Linked DNA regions of Homo sapiens: region 2 is linked to region 1. A link means that fine-mapping ties the variant in region 1 to the expression of a gene that starts in the linked region. Tissue or cell type: whole blood. Region 1 holds a variant in brackets; the other region holds the start of a gene. All regions are shown on one strand. Distances are from middle to middle.

Evidence for each region. PIP is the estimated chance that this variant, and not a neighbour inherited with it, causes the effect.
Region 2: it holds the start of CBLL1, and the variant in region 1 is fine-mapped to the expression of CBLL1 in whole blood (TOPMed, PIP above 0.99).

What each region holds. Positions count from the first base shown.
Region 1 is chr7:107,851,601-107,859,707 of GRCh38, forward strand. LOC105375444 (a long non-coding RNA gene) reads right to left here. Exons shown (of 3, transcript XR_927850.3): 3 at 4,879-5,516. Among named protein-coding and RNA genes, the nearest start is that of DLD, 36 kb to the right of the region's middle. The variant G/C (reference allele first, on the strand shown) is at 3,602.
Region 2 is chr7:107,740,034-107,748,140 of GRCh38, forward strand. CBLL1 (Cbl proto-oncogene like 1) reads left to right here and starts at 4,109. Exons shown (of 6, transcript NM_024814.4): 1 at 4,109-4,143. The coding sequence starts at 4,131. CBLL1-AS1 (CBLL1 antisense RNA 1) reads right to left here and starts at 4,548. Exons shown (of 2, transcript NR_144537.1): 1 at 4,340-4,548; 2 at 2,720-3,370. RefSeq lists enhancers at 2,698-3,217, 3,218-3,736, 3,834-4,053, 4,404-4,583 and a silencer at 3,594-3,793.

The DNA.
Region 1 (8,107 bases):
TCGGGCAGACCATCTGAGGTCGGGAGTTGGAGACCAGCCTGGCCAACATGGTGAAACCCCATTTCTACTAAAAATACAAAAAAAAAAAAAAACCCAAAAAATTAGCCAGGCGTGGTGGTGGGCGTCTGTAATCTCAGCTACTTGGGAGGCTGAGGCACAAGAATTGCTTGAACCTGGGAGGCGGAGGTTGCAGTGAGCCAAGATCATGTCACTGCACTCCAGCCTGGGTGACAGAGCAAGACTGTCTCAAACAAAACAACAACAATAACAACAACAACAACAGCAACAACAAAAAGATTTACCATTTTAATCATTAAGTATATATTGATTATACATTTTCAGTGGCATTAAATACATTCACATCATTGTGAACCACTATCTGTCTCCAGAACTTTTCCATCATCCTAAACAAAAACCACCCATTAAATGGTAACTCCCCAGTCTTCCCTCTCCCCAGCTCCTGGCAACCACTATTCTACTTTCTGTCTCTGTGAATTTGACTACTCAAGGTAGGTGGAATCATACAAATTTGTCCTTCTGTGTCTTGCTTATTTTATTTAGCCTAATGTTTTCAAGGTTCAACCATGTTGTAGCATGTGTCAGAATTGGATTCCTTTTTAAGGCTGAATAATGTTCCATTGTATGTTTATTCCACATTTAATTTTTCCATTAATGGACATCTGGGTTGTTCCTACCTTTTGGTTTTGTGAATAATGCTGCTATGAACATTAGTGTTGAGACTCAGGTTTACATTGTTAGACTCAGTAGTCTCATTTAACTCTTGCAATGAATGCATGGAATTGAAACACAGGTGAATCATGTTTTAAAAAAACAAAGTGGGGCCGGGAATGGTGGTTCACGCCTATAATCCCAGCACTTTGGGGGGTCGAGGCAGAAGGATTGCTTGAGGTCAGGACCAGTCTGGACAATATATTGAGACCCTGTCTCTACCAAAGTAGATAAATAAGTGACTTGAGTGTATGTTCCCCATCACTAAGATTTATAGTTTACATAGTTCTTTGACTTATTTTGTTAGTTGACTTAGTATTTCTATGCATTTCTATATATTGACTGGGTATAATTATAAAGAATATTCATTAAGTCTAGGGATTGCATTTTGAAATCATTGTAATTATTTTCTTTCTTCAAGTGTTCAAGGTAAAGCATATAATTAAAAAATAAACATTTAAAAAATTGCCTAATGTGGAGAAGTGCCAGGAATATCTTGGTCTCTAAACTGACCCAGAGCACATCACTCAAGCTCAGCCAGAATACTCCAGTGTAAGAGGGTAAGAGTATGGCTCTTACTGTAAGGAAACCGAAAAAAAAAAAAAAAAAGAAACGTGAGTTATATTCATGTGACTGTGCTTGTATCTACAAAACTGTGACTGAGTTGAGAAAATACGCTGTTAGCCATGTTTTCCCCAAAATCATTGCACTGTGTTTTGACATTGGGGCTGAAATTTTCATAAGCCCCACTCTACCCCACACCCAGGATGATGAGGAACAGAGATGCCCATTTCACCATTCACGTATGGGTGGTTTTCCAAGGTGCTCCTCAAGAAGCCTTGGACATTTAAGTCTACATCTGATATTTATCTAATGAATAATGTGGTTTACATAAGGAACCAAGTGATTTACTCCCTAGCTCCCCAAAAATGCTTTTTCTTTTCTTTTTTTCTTTCTTTTTTTTTTTTTTCTTTTTTTTTTTGAGACAGAGTCTCACTCTATTACCCAGGCTGGAGTGCAGTGGCAGGTCTCGGCCCACTGCAACCTCCTGCTCCTGGACTCAAGCAATCGTTCCATCTCAGCTTCCTGAGTAGCTGGGATTACAGATGCATGCCATTACACCCGGCTAACTTTTGTATTTTTTGTAGAGACGGGGTTTTGCCATCTTGCTGGTCTTGGACTCCTGAGCTCAAGTGATCCACCCACCTAGGCCTCCCAAAGTGCTGGGATTACAGGCATGAGCCACTGCGCCCAGCCTAAAAAATACTTTTTGAAATCTCAGCTAGATTCATTGGCTAACAAGGTAATTCTGTCAGAACTGAAGCTATTAAGGCAGGGAAGATTCTACTCACTTTTTAAATCCTAGTTTAAATTTTTAAAAAATCCTTTAAAATTCATAAGTTCTAAATCTGCATAGAAACATATACAGATATAGCTATCCAAAGCATTCTCACTTTAAACTTTTGTGAGACCTCACAAAGAAATTATAGAGTTTTCTAGACTCAAAATCACGAAACGTCTGGCATCCTTTGCTGTCAAGAACCGTACAAGAATCACCCTCACTTATTGAGATGCTGTTATCTGTTCCAACCAAGGAATTCCAGACGTTAACAAACGCAGAGAAGGACCTGGGAAGCAGAGGCAGCTGAGGTGGGGCTCACTGAGAAGATGTCTTAGGGTTTGGGGGTGTTCCTACCCTTGCACTCATCAACCATGTACCCCCGAACATCACCTCTTCCTGAACTAGGGGACCGGAGGTCATTTTACAGAGATTGCTGTAATGGTTCATTCTGTGGGCAGGTGTGATTGGGCAGGTAGGGGAGAGATGGTGAATTGGAAAGACATGTTGAACTGAGTCTGAATTAGTTTCTTTCTTTTGCCCCTGATGAAGATGGAAATGGGTTTCCTCTTTGCCTTTTCACACAAGTGCTGCAGACAACGTCTGTGATTGCACCAACTCCTGGTGCCTCACCCAGAGCATCGCCTCCCCAGATGTTATTCATCCTTGTGTTTTCTCCTGGCCTGAAAGGAGACAGCTTTGACTCTCCAGGAGATGGGAAACTAGTTTTCTACTAAATTCCCATTCTAGCCTACAAATTCCTATCAGAACAACAGCCCCCCACTAACTGGATTGTTGTTACGCCTCCACTTTACTCTGTGACACCTGCAGACATCTCTATATTGTACTTTTTCCCAATGAATTAAGATCACAAGAGGATATATGCTTTTCACAATTTGCCTCTGTGTCTTAGTGCAGTGTACATACTATTGTGAAAATATAGATGTAGCTGGGTGTTTGTGTTGGCTCTAAACAAACCAGTTCTTGCAATCCTGGCCAGTTTCCACCTGTGTCTACATATCCCTCAAATACAAGAACAATGCATAGCCCAAAATCAGCCTGTGTGATAGATGCAATCTGGGGAAGGTGAAGTTAACTTATGATGCAAAAAGGCAGAATGGAAAGCCATGGTTGGCAAGATGATGACAAAAGCTAAATAAATGTCCTTGACCTAGAACTACAGAGAAGATGTTCTCTGGGAAGACTTGTGAGTGCACGTCTCAAATTTCGAAACTCTGATCTTCCTTGCCAACCCCTACCCCACCTCTATTCCCCTCCAAAGCCCTAAATATAAATCGCTATGTCTTCTTTCACAAAATAGAGACCAAACTCCTCGTCAGGCACAGAATATACAAGGCTTTTCTTTGGTCTAGACTCTCTACCTTTCCAGCTTCCTCTTCAGTTATCTCCCTCTCATAATCCATGCTCCAGTCAAAGTGAGTTATTGTCCTCATCCTCCATTATGCTGTGTCTTACCCCCAACACCCCCAGGTCATGTTCCCTCTCCACTAGACCCTTTCCTCCCTGCTTCAC[G/C]TGGTGGAGAGTCTTTGGCACGTGTTGACTCATGTCCTCTGGATCCTCTCCAAATGTGTGAGGACATTCCTCACTTGTGAGCCTTGTTGGGAGACAGTGCTTGTCTTCCTTTACAGAAGTTGAAAAGACCCAGCACTCAATCTGCCGCTACCTTGGCAGATAAGATGTGGGGAGATAGCCTTGGCTTGGTCCATCAGCTGCACCTATTAGCAATATTGAATCTGGAAGTAATGATACAAACAAGCAGGGCAAGGAAGACTCCCTTTGGCCGTGGTGGTTGGCAGGAGTGAGGGGGGCAGCAGCATGTGATTTCCAGCAGCCAGTCTGTGATGCCACACCACCAATGGCATCCTCACCTCACTGGCACCACTTTCCCAAATCTTGTTCTCCATGTTTCCTAGAAATTGTATGATCATCTGATAGTCTCTCTATACATTCTCTGCTTAAAATGGCCAGTCTGTTTCTGTCACTTGCAATGAAGACTCTGACTGGCTGGGCACAGTGGCTCATGCCTGTAATCCCAGCACCTTTGGAAGGCCAAGGTGGAAGGATCCCTTGAGGCCAGGAATTCAAGATCAGCCTGGACAACATAGCAGACCCCATCTCTACCAAAAAACAGCTGGGCATGATGGTGCATGCCTGTAGTCAAAGCTACTAGGGAGGCTGAGGCAGGAGGATCACTTGAGCCCAGGAGTTTGAGGCTGCAGAACAAGACCCTGTTTCTTAACAAAAAGAAAGCCTTTGATATACCTGGCCAGTTTCTATTTGTCTTTTGAGACTCCTCTCAGTGACTATTTTCTTGGAAAGCAGTGCTCATCCCTGCCCCACTCCTAGCCAGTGTTTCTCCTATAGACTCCCATAAAAGTCTGGTCCATTCTGGCTCAGCGTTTATGCTGACATTAATAGCATTAGTCATATTATTAATGCTGACATTAATCACAGCATTTATTAACACTGTGTCAGGACCTGCCACTAACTCACTTGTCCCCCTTCTGGGCTGTAAGTTCTTGAGGACACAGACTAGGTTTTGCCCCTCTCTATCCCTAGAACCCAGAACAGTATGTTAACATGGCATGCAGTAATAGCATTACAGCAACAGTACTAATACCAGTAATAACAATAACTTTTATTGAGCACCTATTATGTGCCAAGGTGCAGAAAAAAATGCTTATTTGATAAATAATGTACACTGAAAATTGCTCACCGAATATTTTTGAATACTTTCATACTCACAGAGTATTTTTGTATTTTGAATACAGGCAACCCTGAGGAAAAATTGGTACATCCCACTTCACCAATTAATTCCCTTTTCATTTTCTCTCTCTTTTCTCCTTCTGGATATGTCTCTTGTGTTCCGCTCTTGCCCTCAAATAGATGTTATTTAATACCTAGAAAGATGAATAGCAGTGGCTACAGTGTTAGTTGCTAGTGACTGCGCTTGCCTTTCAGAAGAAGCTTCTTATAGTGTGAAAAGTTTTCAGAAGGAATGAGGTCTTTATTGTGGAATGCCTTACAGTAGGCCATACTTGTTTTTATAGCTTGGGTGCAGGAGCTGGAAATAGAGGGAGAATGCCTATGTACAAGTGTGCGAAGGAGAGGGAGAAGCTGCTCTCACCCCACTCCTGACTTCTTGTCTGCTCTCTTCTCAGCAAAGTCCTCTTCTGGGGTCTTCCTAGGCCTCACAAAGCTGCTCCCCAGGCCTTGGCCAACCACCTTCCCTGGAGCAGGCTCTCGGTGAGAAAACCTCATGGAGAGAAGAGGCCAGGAGTCCATGGCCACTCCTGTTTACTTTCCCATTCCCATCCTGCATGTTCCTGCCTCCTGCCTGAGTGAACACAGATTGACATGCCCTCTGTGAATGGCTGCAGACCCTTGTTCCAGTTCAGCTCTGTCCAGCACCTGTCATATGTATTACCTGAAAGAAAAACCTGAGATCAGCAGAAGATCCTCAGAGCAGACAAAAATTTTTCTTAAAAACAACAAGACAAGTGAAAAACAGGACAAGGGTGGGGACAGGACAACAGCAGGCTGCACCCAGAGAGTGCACCCAGGTCATCGGCTGTTCTTCATTTCTGACTTCCTGCTGGCTGTCCTGTGAGGTTGAGGTTACGTGGTTAGAGAAAGCCGGTTACTTGTTTCAAAACAAACAAAGTCCTCAAATCCTTTGAACAGCTAAAGGAATAGAGCACTCCTTGAATATGTATTCTTTCATATCCTCTGAACAGATCTTTATTTACAAGGAAGGCTGGTCTTGGCTGGAAAAATGGTAGTCAGATGTAGATCAAAATGATAATCTCAGAACACAGCACCAAGTGTCTTTTGCATGGGCCATGGGACTTAATGTCTTGATAGAACAGAGGATGTCAAGGAGAAAAAACTGAAGGCCACAAGAAAATGTGAATTTTTTAAATAGTTTACTCTGGTTGGAGGTTTGCCATATTCCTGACTCAACTTTATAATGTTTCCCATTTCTAAGCCAAATGGCTCAGAAGTGTGGCTGGGGTGTGACCTTGACCAGGTACAACCATGGCAATGAGTCTCTATTCTTTTTACTTTGGAATCCAACCAACACGTTAAAGCTCTTTGAATGTGGGTATCATATGAGTCAGTGCATGTGTGCTGACTGCCTGCTGTCCTCATAACACAAAGTGGAGTGGGGGCTATGGAGGCTACTGGATTATTTCCGTCAGTGTATACAGCAAAACTAAATTAATCCCCAAGTTTAGGCTTTTTGACCTCGAGTATCAAGACTAGTTTACTTGCATTGTGCAAATTAGTCACCAACCTACTTTGTATTATAGAGAGTTTTAAACTTTTGTGTATTTCTCCAGATTTGCATCAATGAGATTTTTGAAGTCAGCTTTTAAAATAAATACTAAAATGTAACTGCTTTTGGGATTCTTTTTCTTTATCCACCACACCACGAAAGTAGTAAGTTCCAACACTTCTCACCATTTGCAGTGCCACAATCTGGTTCAAGTCACCGTCAGCTCCCCCTTCAACACTGAGGAAGCCTCCAGGCCCATCTCCTGCCTCCAGTCTTATCCCACTCTCCTCCCTGTCAAGCACAGTCCATACAACACGCAGCAGGCAGAGGTATCTTTACCAGGTGTAAATCAGGTTACATAACTCTCTGGTTTAAAACTCTCCAAGGCTTCCTCTTACAACTAGAGAAAAACTTACCCTCCAGTCTTGGCCTACCAAACCCGCCTGATTGGGCTCCTTCATGGCTCTCCCAAGTGACCCACAACTTGCTTCCTGGTCCTCAGCACTCCAGTCCCTTCAGCTTTCTATCTCTTGAACGAATGCACCAAGCTCAGCCCTGCTCTGGGCCTTTGCACTTGTTCCTCCTTCTGCTGCGTGCCTCTTGCCTAGATCTTTGCACGGCTGTCCCCCTCTCATTATCTGGGTCTCAATTCACATCCACTCAACAAACCACTCTAGATAAATCAGCACTCTCTGCCCACTTCTTTTTTTTGTTGAGATGGAGTCTTGCTTGTCACCCAGGCTGGAATGCGGTGGTGCAATCTCGGCTCACTGCAACCTCTGCCTCCCGGGTTCAAGTGATTCTCCTGCCTCAGGCTCTGGAGTAGCTGGGACTACAGGCGCCCGCCACCACGCCCAGCTAATTTTTTGTGTTTTCAGTAGAGACGGGGTTTCACCGTGTTGGCCAGGATGGTCCGGATCTCCTGACCTCGTGATCTGCCCACCTCGGCCTCCCAAAGTGCTGGGATTACAGGCGTGACCCACTGCACCCGGCCTCTCTGCCCATTTCTACCACTCTCTCATTATCCTATTAGAGCCACGTCTGGCACTTAGCAGGACTTAAAACTAAATTATTTTAAAGCCCTGTTTATGTGTTTTTTGCTTGTTTTCCCCCAACCCACAAACCAGCCCAATATGAGAACATGAGCTCATTGAAGGCAGGAACTCAGATCCTTGCGGTCCCTGCTGTTCCCACTCCTGTCCCCCCATACCTGGAGCAGTACCCAGCCTAATACATATTTATTGACTATCTGATAACTTAACAAATTTAACATTCAGTAAAATTTACCCGATAAATGAACGAATGATTAGGGAACCACATGCATGACTCTCAACTACATAGTGTAAAGTTCCACCTACATGGCATTCTGGAAAAGACAAAACCATAGGGATAAAAAATAGATCAGTAGTTACCAGAAACTGGGTTTGGGATGTTAAGGGCTGACTATAAAGGGACATAAGGGAACTTTTTTGGATGATGGAACCCTTCTATATTTTGTTTCTGATGGCAGTTTCGTGTTAAAAATCATAGAATTGGTTGGCTAAACAGGATAAATTGTGTGTACGCAAGTTATACCTCAACAAACTGGATTTTATTTAATTGCCTGACAGATCTTTCACTTACCCTGGAATAAGCACCGAATGGTTTGTAGAAACGCTCTCATATTGGCCCTTTGTGAACAATCTCCATGTACACATATTCTGAGTGCAGAAACCCCGGGAGCAGCATGGTGGAGTAGA
Region 2 (8,107 bases), 110 kb before region 1:
ATCACTTCCCAAAAGGCCCCACCTCTTAATATCACCACCTTGGGGTTTAAGTTCCAACATATGAATTTTGGAGGAATACCTTCATTCAAACCATAGCACCAAGGAAGGCTGAAAGCCTTTTTCAACTGGCATGGAGTGGCAGCTGAGGTTAGGGTCAGGGGCCCTTGAACAAAAGCCTTCTTAAGTTTAGGAAACAATATACAGACTAATTGCTTACTACAGAGCAGTTTAATACCCTAAGCATTCTTTTAGGAGTGAACTGGAGGCAATTATATTAGCAAAGAAGCTGTAGGGAGGGACAGGTCTATCCAGCTCAAAGGATATCCACAACAAAATTTTCCTTCTCAGAAAAGAAGGAAGGCTGCAGGACCTCTCTAGATCAAAAGGTTCCTTTTCAAATGAGTACATATATTGCCAGGCCTCAACGAGAATGAATCTCCTTCGAGACAGGAACGGGACAATGCCTTCAATCAGCAACATTCTGTTTTTACAGTCTATTTCCCTCTTATTCTCTGAATCTGCCTCTTGCCCAGTTTTTCATGGTGTTTGAAAAGCTGGCTGCCATAGCTTGATAAGGCATATATCTAACCAGGATATTTTACTGCCTTTTCCATTTCTGCTTATCAAACGTATTAATATATACTGGACACTACCTGGATCCGTTTTTTTTTTTTTACTAACAATTCATTCATACTTCATGGCATTTTGGCTATCATAGGTATCGCTGGCTTCCTGGTCAATTGTTCTTGGTCTAGGTGTAATAGTATTACACTTTAATTCTGACTGATTGTTCATCAACTGATTCATCTCCCCACCCCAAGTTAAGATTTGCTCATTGTTTTTGAATATATTTTGCTGGATTATATTGTTTCTATGAATATATTATGCTGGGTTTTGTTAAATGCTCTATTTCTTTACTGTTACTCTGAAATCTTACTTTTTCAAGGTGCTCCATAATAACTTATTTTTTTAGAACTCCCAAACATGGATCAACAGTACAAATAAAGCTCTTCACTGTCCTCTATAGAAACCATACAATTCTCACATCTGTGCCCTTGCTTTTCTCTGTGTGATATGCCTTTTATTGCTCTCCTCCTCTCCAAATTTTATCCATTCACATAAGGCTCAGCTTAAATCCCTCCATAAAGCTAACCTAACTACTCTCAGTCCCACTACTTTATCTAAATGTAAGTAGCACTGAATTTCCTCTCAACACTTAGAACTAAATTATATAGATCTTCACATATTTCTTAAAATGATATCCTGTAGGATCCTTGAAGTAGGGGCCATTATTTATACAGCTTTTGCCTTATGCAGTCCTAGGCAGGCACTCAGTGGGATACAGTTGAAAGAGTGTTAGGAGATGAAGGTTTTTGTCCTTACTTGGTACTGAGGAGTCCGTAACAGGCTATTGGGGAAAACAAGCTCTCTGATACCCCTCTTACTTTTCTCATAGCATAAACAGTAACTATGTAAATGGGAGGCTATCAAAACATCTTGGAGACCACTACCTTATAATTCATAGGTAGTAGATGGTCTTGCCAGTAAGATAAAAAGGTGCACCTCAGTGCTTCAGACTGCCCATTACAGTAAGTTTTCACTTTTATAAACCTTAGGTCAGCACCTAAACTATATATAGCTTATATATAAGCAATATAAACCTTATGCTCTATAAATAAATATTAATGGCAACTCTTGATAAAGAAATTGTGACTGGTTACAGCACGCTGGTCGCTGAAAAGAGATACTAGAGGGCAGTAATAAAACATAGGTAAAGAAATTAATTTATCACACTGCTACTGCATTGGTAATTCAAGGCAACCACAATTAAGGGGGTAAATACAGACCACAGATGCTAAAGCAATGCCTGAAAGTAAGAGATGTCAAATCAAATCAAACAAATGTTTAACATTTTATCAGATCTAAAGTAAGTACATCTTCTCTCAGTAAATTTTCTTGATGCACCATAAAATGCCAACAAAACTTCTAACTTACAGGTTAAATTATATAAAATACAATTTGAAAGCTCTTTTTAATTCTAATTATTTAAATATTAGCATCAGCAGACATTAATAATACTATTCTGAACCTGGATTTCCATGAATCTGAAGGTTAACCGTTAGCTGATAGGCTAAGTATGATAGAACAAAAAAATCAAAGCCAGTGGTGGTGATGAGCATCTGTAGTCCCAACTACTCCGGAGGCTGAGGCATAAGGACCCCTTGAGCCCGGGAGTCCAAGGATGCAGTGAGCTATGATTCTGCCATTGTGTTCCAGTTTGGGCTGCCCCATCTCTAAAAAAAATTTTTTTAATATGAAAAAGAAGTACTTTCTAAGTGAAAACTTAAAAAAAAAAAAAAAACCCAAATTGGTGAAAAATGCCTGACTATATCAACACTGTATTTAGAAAAATAGGGAGGTATGGGAAAAAGGTTAGGCAAGCCCCAATGCCCAAAACAATAATCCCAGAAACTGAAAGCATCTTGAAAACCACCTAGCAATACAGAACTTTACATTTAAAAAAAGCAGGGGTAATTTTGATTCACAAATGTCCTTAGTTGTGAATGTACCTAAAAACTTGTTTATAAAGCTGCATATATAGAGCAGAAAAATCTTTTACAAGATCTCAGGAAAATAATCACCAAATAACATGGTGCACTTAAATCGCACTGATCATCACAGCATGATTCACAAATAATACCGTACAACTACAAAGATATAACACATCGCTACACATACTTTATTTGCAATTCAGTACCATGAAAACATTTCTCTAAGAGGTCAATGTAATAATCTTTTATTGATATAGGAACTCTGGCACTGAAAGCTTGAATAACCCAAGGTAATGATGTCGTCACCAAGGGAGGACAAGAATAGAACCCAAATCCCTTGACTCCCAAGCTTGTGTTTTCCATTAATTGTGCTCCTTTCTATTCATCCAAGAGCATCAAGTGTAAAAGGCTGGAGAAAGGAGTGGACACAAATGAGCCAAGTCCGCAAGGTGGAGACTGCACTGAAGGTCCTAGGAATCGCCCCTTGGCACTTTCCTTTTGTGTTGGCTGAGGAAGATGAAAGCAGCAACAACCACAAACTCCTGGGACCAAGAACTGGAACTAGGTACTGCTTGTTGTGGTAACTCTCTTCCTCATTTTAGGCCTTTCCTTTTTAACCTCTCCTTCCGGCCAAGCCTTCGCGCTCTCTTCCCCTCCCTCGGTTTCTATCCGCTCCCGTTAGCTCCACTCCGCACATTCCTGCAAGGTGTCCCCGTTAAGAGGAGGCAGCTGCGCCGCACTGGCTCTCCACCCTCCATCCGGCCCTGGCGCCCAGTCGTCAGGTGTTCGAGAGGTTCGTAGCGTCACAAGCGCTCTCCCTAGAAAGTGAGTGGCAGTCAAGCATTATAAACGTGTTTCAACTGTAAAGAGACTTAAGAGATGGGAACCGGGGCATATACCAAGTTAGCTCTGCGTGGGTCTAGGTAGCTCGTCACGACAAAGCAAAATTTAGACAAGCGTTGAGACTTTCCTTCTAGCTCCGAGTTTCACAGCTCCGCCATCCCCTGAGCAACCTCCCACTGGAGGGCGCCTTCCGGAGCGCGCGTGTTTACACTTTTGCTACACCAGGCGGAGGAAACAAGCGCTCGCTGACCCCGGGGGATTCCAAACCGTTACTCCGCCCGCCGGGGTGGGGCCAGCGCAACGGCCGAGCCTGCGCAGCCAGCCGGCTCCGGGGGCCCCGCGCACTACAAGTCCCAGAAGGCAGCTCTCCGCGGGGCGGGCAGTCGCCTTATCTGCTTCTGGCTCATTTTTACCACTGCTCTCCCCTTCCCCGGTCCCCCTGGTGTCCTTTCCACAGTTAAAGGCTACTTTCTCTTGAAGCACATGAGGAGAAGCCTTAGCAACCTCAATACCGAAGTTCTTCGCGCGCTCGCTCTTTCTGCCTCCGCCCGAACTATGCCTGAGTCCCTCACAGGAGTTGGATAGTAGAGGCGAGAGAAGGAAGTCTTTGCAGGCCAAAATTGGGACAACCTGCTTGGACTTCCGCCTCCCGGCCTCCGGAAGGCAGTGCGCACGCGCTCGCTGCGACTCCGGCGCGGTTGACTTCCGCTCCCACTGTGCTCTGCGAGCCGAATCATGGATCACACTGGTAAGGAGGCGGAGGCAGTGGGGGTCCCGGTTCCAAGCCCCCTTGGCCGGCCTGGGGCTGGTCGCACAGCAGGCAAAAGGGATTATGCTCGCCCCACAACACTAGGGTGTGGCAGTGAGAAGAAATCTCACAGATGCCTTCCTGTGCCCGGCAGGGGCCTGCGGTTTCCTGGCCTACCGTCTGGTGTGGTACCTACCTCCTCCGTGCCGGCAACAACCGCTCCTACTCTGGTTCTGCTGAGCTCCGAGCCCGGACCAGTGGGCGATGTAGGCCTTCGGGAAGGGAGAGCCCCGGCTCTGTTTTATTTAGCCCAGCTGCTCTGGCCTACGTTATGGAGACTGGCGGGTAGATTGCGGTCTCCGAGTCGCGGAATCCTCTTTACGCTGGGAGTGGACGGGCGAGAATGGGTTGGAGACTTCCTGCTGTCTCAGTCAGCTTTGGGCGGGTGCTGCAGTGGTCACCCCCTGTCGTCTCTCCGATCCTTTATGGACTAGAGGGGTGAAAGAAGGGAGTCTGATAGAGTTTTTGGAATCAAACTCGGAGCAGTTTTTCTACCTAAACCAAAAGCATGCCCCGCGCTTCGGCTGAGGTCCTTACTCATCATTTGAGGGTATTTACAAAGAGGAGTTTAAAATCAAGGCATTCTCATACTTTTCTCCAAGTAAGAGTGGCTCCACCCTTTGTTATGTATTTTCTGGCTTTTGCTTCTTTGTGGTTCTTGGATATTGAATGAGTGCTCTTGGAGTTATGTGCCCCATACATTTATAGCGACCGTATCACAAATAGAGAAAAAAAGGCTTTTTCTTGAGTATTGAGTTGTCCTCACTCATCAGATATCTACTTGGTTATATAATTAGGTGTGTATGTTTATTTATGTAGGTGTGTATGTTTATTTATGCAAGATACATGCAGATATCTATAGGTCGGGAGATGGAAGATGGAATGGTAAACGAGACGGACCAGGTCCGTGATAGAACTTCTGTTTTATGGAGGAACACAGACAATACGTTCTTTTTTTTTAAATTTATTATTTTTTTAATGTTTGCGGATTATTTTGAAGAAAATAAACGAGTGCTGTGGAGAGATTCATAGGACGAAATTTCAGAGAGGGTTGTTAGGAATGGTCTTTGTGGAAGCTAAGATCTGATGGATGAGAAGAACCCAGCCCTGGGAAAAAAGCAAGAGGAAGAGCATTTCCAGCAAGTGCGAAGGCACTGAGGTAGGAAGATACAGTGAAGTCAGCTGCAGCCTCCTAATAGCCAGAGGGTAGGAGTCCTGAAGTGAGATTGGAAAGGAGGGCAGCAGGCACATCATTCAGGTCATTGAAAGCCGTGGTAAACGTTTGAATTTTAATTTAAGTGAATATGAAGCCATTGAACAGAAGTGGAGGAGGAACACAGTCTCTTAAAAAATACAATAGGCTGTTCTATGAAGAATGGTGTAAGAGAGGGAGGTAAGAATGATGGAAAATAGCTGATTGCAGTAGACGGGAAGGGAAGGTTGGTTTGGTGAAAATGAAGGAGAATGGGCAGCTTCAGTAAATACTCTGGTGGTGTTTGAAGGAATGTGAGAGAAAGGAGAAATGCCTAGGCTTTTGGTTTGAGCAACTAGGTAGGGTCCATTATTGAGCTGAGGAAAACTTGGGGCAGAAAACAATCTTTTTTTGTAGAGGTGAGACGGGAATTTGGGAACAAGTGTTTGGTCTTGGACTGCTAGTGTGAGATAACTACTGAGACACAGGAGAGATGCCAAGTGGAGATGAGAGGAAAGATCTGCACTGAAAATACGTATTTGGAAGTTAGTACCTTTATTTATAGCTGGTATTTTAAAGCATGAGGACAGATGAGACCACTTAAGAAGGGTGTGTTCAGAGGAGAAGCCGGCCTAGAACGAGGCTGTAAAGAATTCCAGTGTTTGGGAATTTATAGAGTTGAAACTGGGATTTTGATGTTAGAATAGCAAACATTCAACTTTAGGAAAGTAATTCTTATTTGAGCCCACTACTGGAATTATGAGTCAAGTTCCTGCCATAGTTTAGAGGCTATTATGTTAGGAAATCATAATAGGGGTGAGTGTAAAGAGTGTTTATTATCTTAATTCTTGAAGTTTAGAGATTGCCTAAGGAAGTAAAACTCATCTTAACATGAAAATACTCACGAATGAGCTGACCACTTAAAAAATTAGTTCCCTCTCAGATGTCCCTTCTGCTTAACACTAGCTTCTTACCTATTTTATTTTTTTTAAATGAATCAATCTCTTTGATGTTTAGTATCAGAAGACAGTATCAAATACTGTGCACTGATTGTGAAATAAAATTATAAACCTTGTAGAAGATTCTGGTTTTCATGAAATTCGTAAACATGAATTTGATAATTGTTTAAATCACAAAGGCTTTGACAAATGAGGAAATGCCACTTAGCTAGATAATTGAAGAATCATGACAGGATAGGCATCTCAAAAGAATAATTGTAATATTAAAGGATTAAGAGGTCCTTGGGGAAACAGATGAAACCCTTGAACATTATGCAAAAATGACCCATTTTATGATCATACCGAAACATTCAAATGTGAAAATGAAGGTGTTCTAATAGAATCTTGCCAGAAAAATTACTCCAAGGGGCTCCCCATTAACACTGGATTTATTCTTTGGTCATTCTAAGAATTAGCACTTCTGTAACTGTATCCCAGATTTTGTAAAAGATCCCAGATTTTGTAAAATATTTATTGGTTCTTTTTATTCAAGATAAAAAATCCCCAATCTTTTTTAAACTATATGATATGGAAGTGTTGTGCCTTTTTAAAGTGAATTTATCTGAAGTGGCCAGTAGTCCTTAGTCACTTTCTATGTAATATCTAAGAAATTTTTGTTGTTAAGGACTTTATAATTTGTTACTGTATTCAAAAGGAAATAGTGCTTTATGCTCTGATTCTTAATTTAAAAACAACAAAAAGCAAAAAAGTCCCAAAGAAACCCAGAATGTTATCATTATTAAATGCTGTACCTCATGAACTTGAATCTGTGAAGCAGAGTGGGAAGGGCCAGCCAGCTCTTGAAAGTGGTAGACTATGCAAGCAACAGTAGAGACCTCAAGTGTTCAGGATGGTGTGAAAAGGACTTGTAATGAAGTGTTGGTATTTTCATTATTCACAAAGGTAAAACGATTAAACCATTTTGATATTTGAATATTTAATATTTGAGGGACAGCATTGAACTGATTATATGTCTACAACGACTTGCTTTTTAGTTCATTGGAATGTCAGGAATACTTTTTGAGCAAGGAAAAAAGTCATTCATATTTCTTTTGGCCAATGCATTGCTTGTAAGTACTTTTACATACATAAGCAACTACAATGAAAACAGATCAAATACATTAATCAGCTTGTGAGTCTATTTAATGAAGTGTTGAAAGCTGATCAAGTTGGGTTAACCCTAACTCAAGATTCTAGCTAACCATGTAATTCCACCCCTCTTTGTTTTAGGATTAGCTGTTATAAGAGTAGTAAGTAGATTAAAATAATCGTTATGGACCCATTTTTAATTTTGTTTGGTATTTTGTTCAGAAAAAGTGCAAATGAATGTGAACTTATTGTGTGTCTGTAATCCTAGTAGCCTTGGAGGCCATTGGTACTAGCTTACTACTTCCAAATTTGGCTTTGCTGAATTTAATGTGGATGGTTTGGCTATCAGTCTTGACTGTAATATTTCCTGCAGGGGCAGTTATACAACCTTGTTCAATAACTTGTCATGTTTAAAACACTACAAATTAAAAAATACGTTATTTGTATTTCCTATTTTAAGCATTTTCCTTCTTTAGTAGGTCAAGTTAAATATTTTCTGTATTATATATTTTCATCTACTTGAAAAAAGGTAACTCTTAAGCTTTAGATGGAGTCAGTTCTATGAAATAATACTCCTGTTACTCATGGGACAAGAATTAATTTATTCTATAGACAATAACAAGCA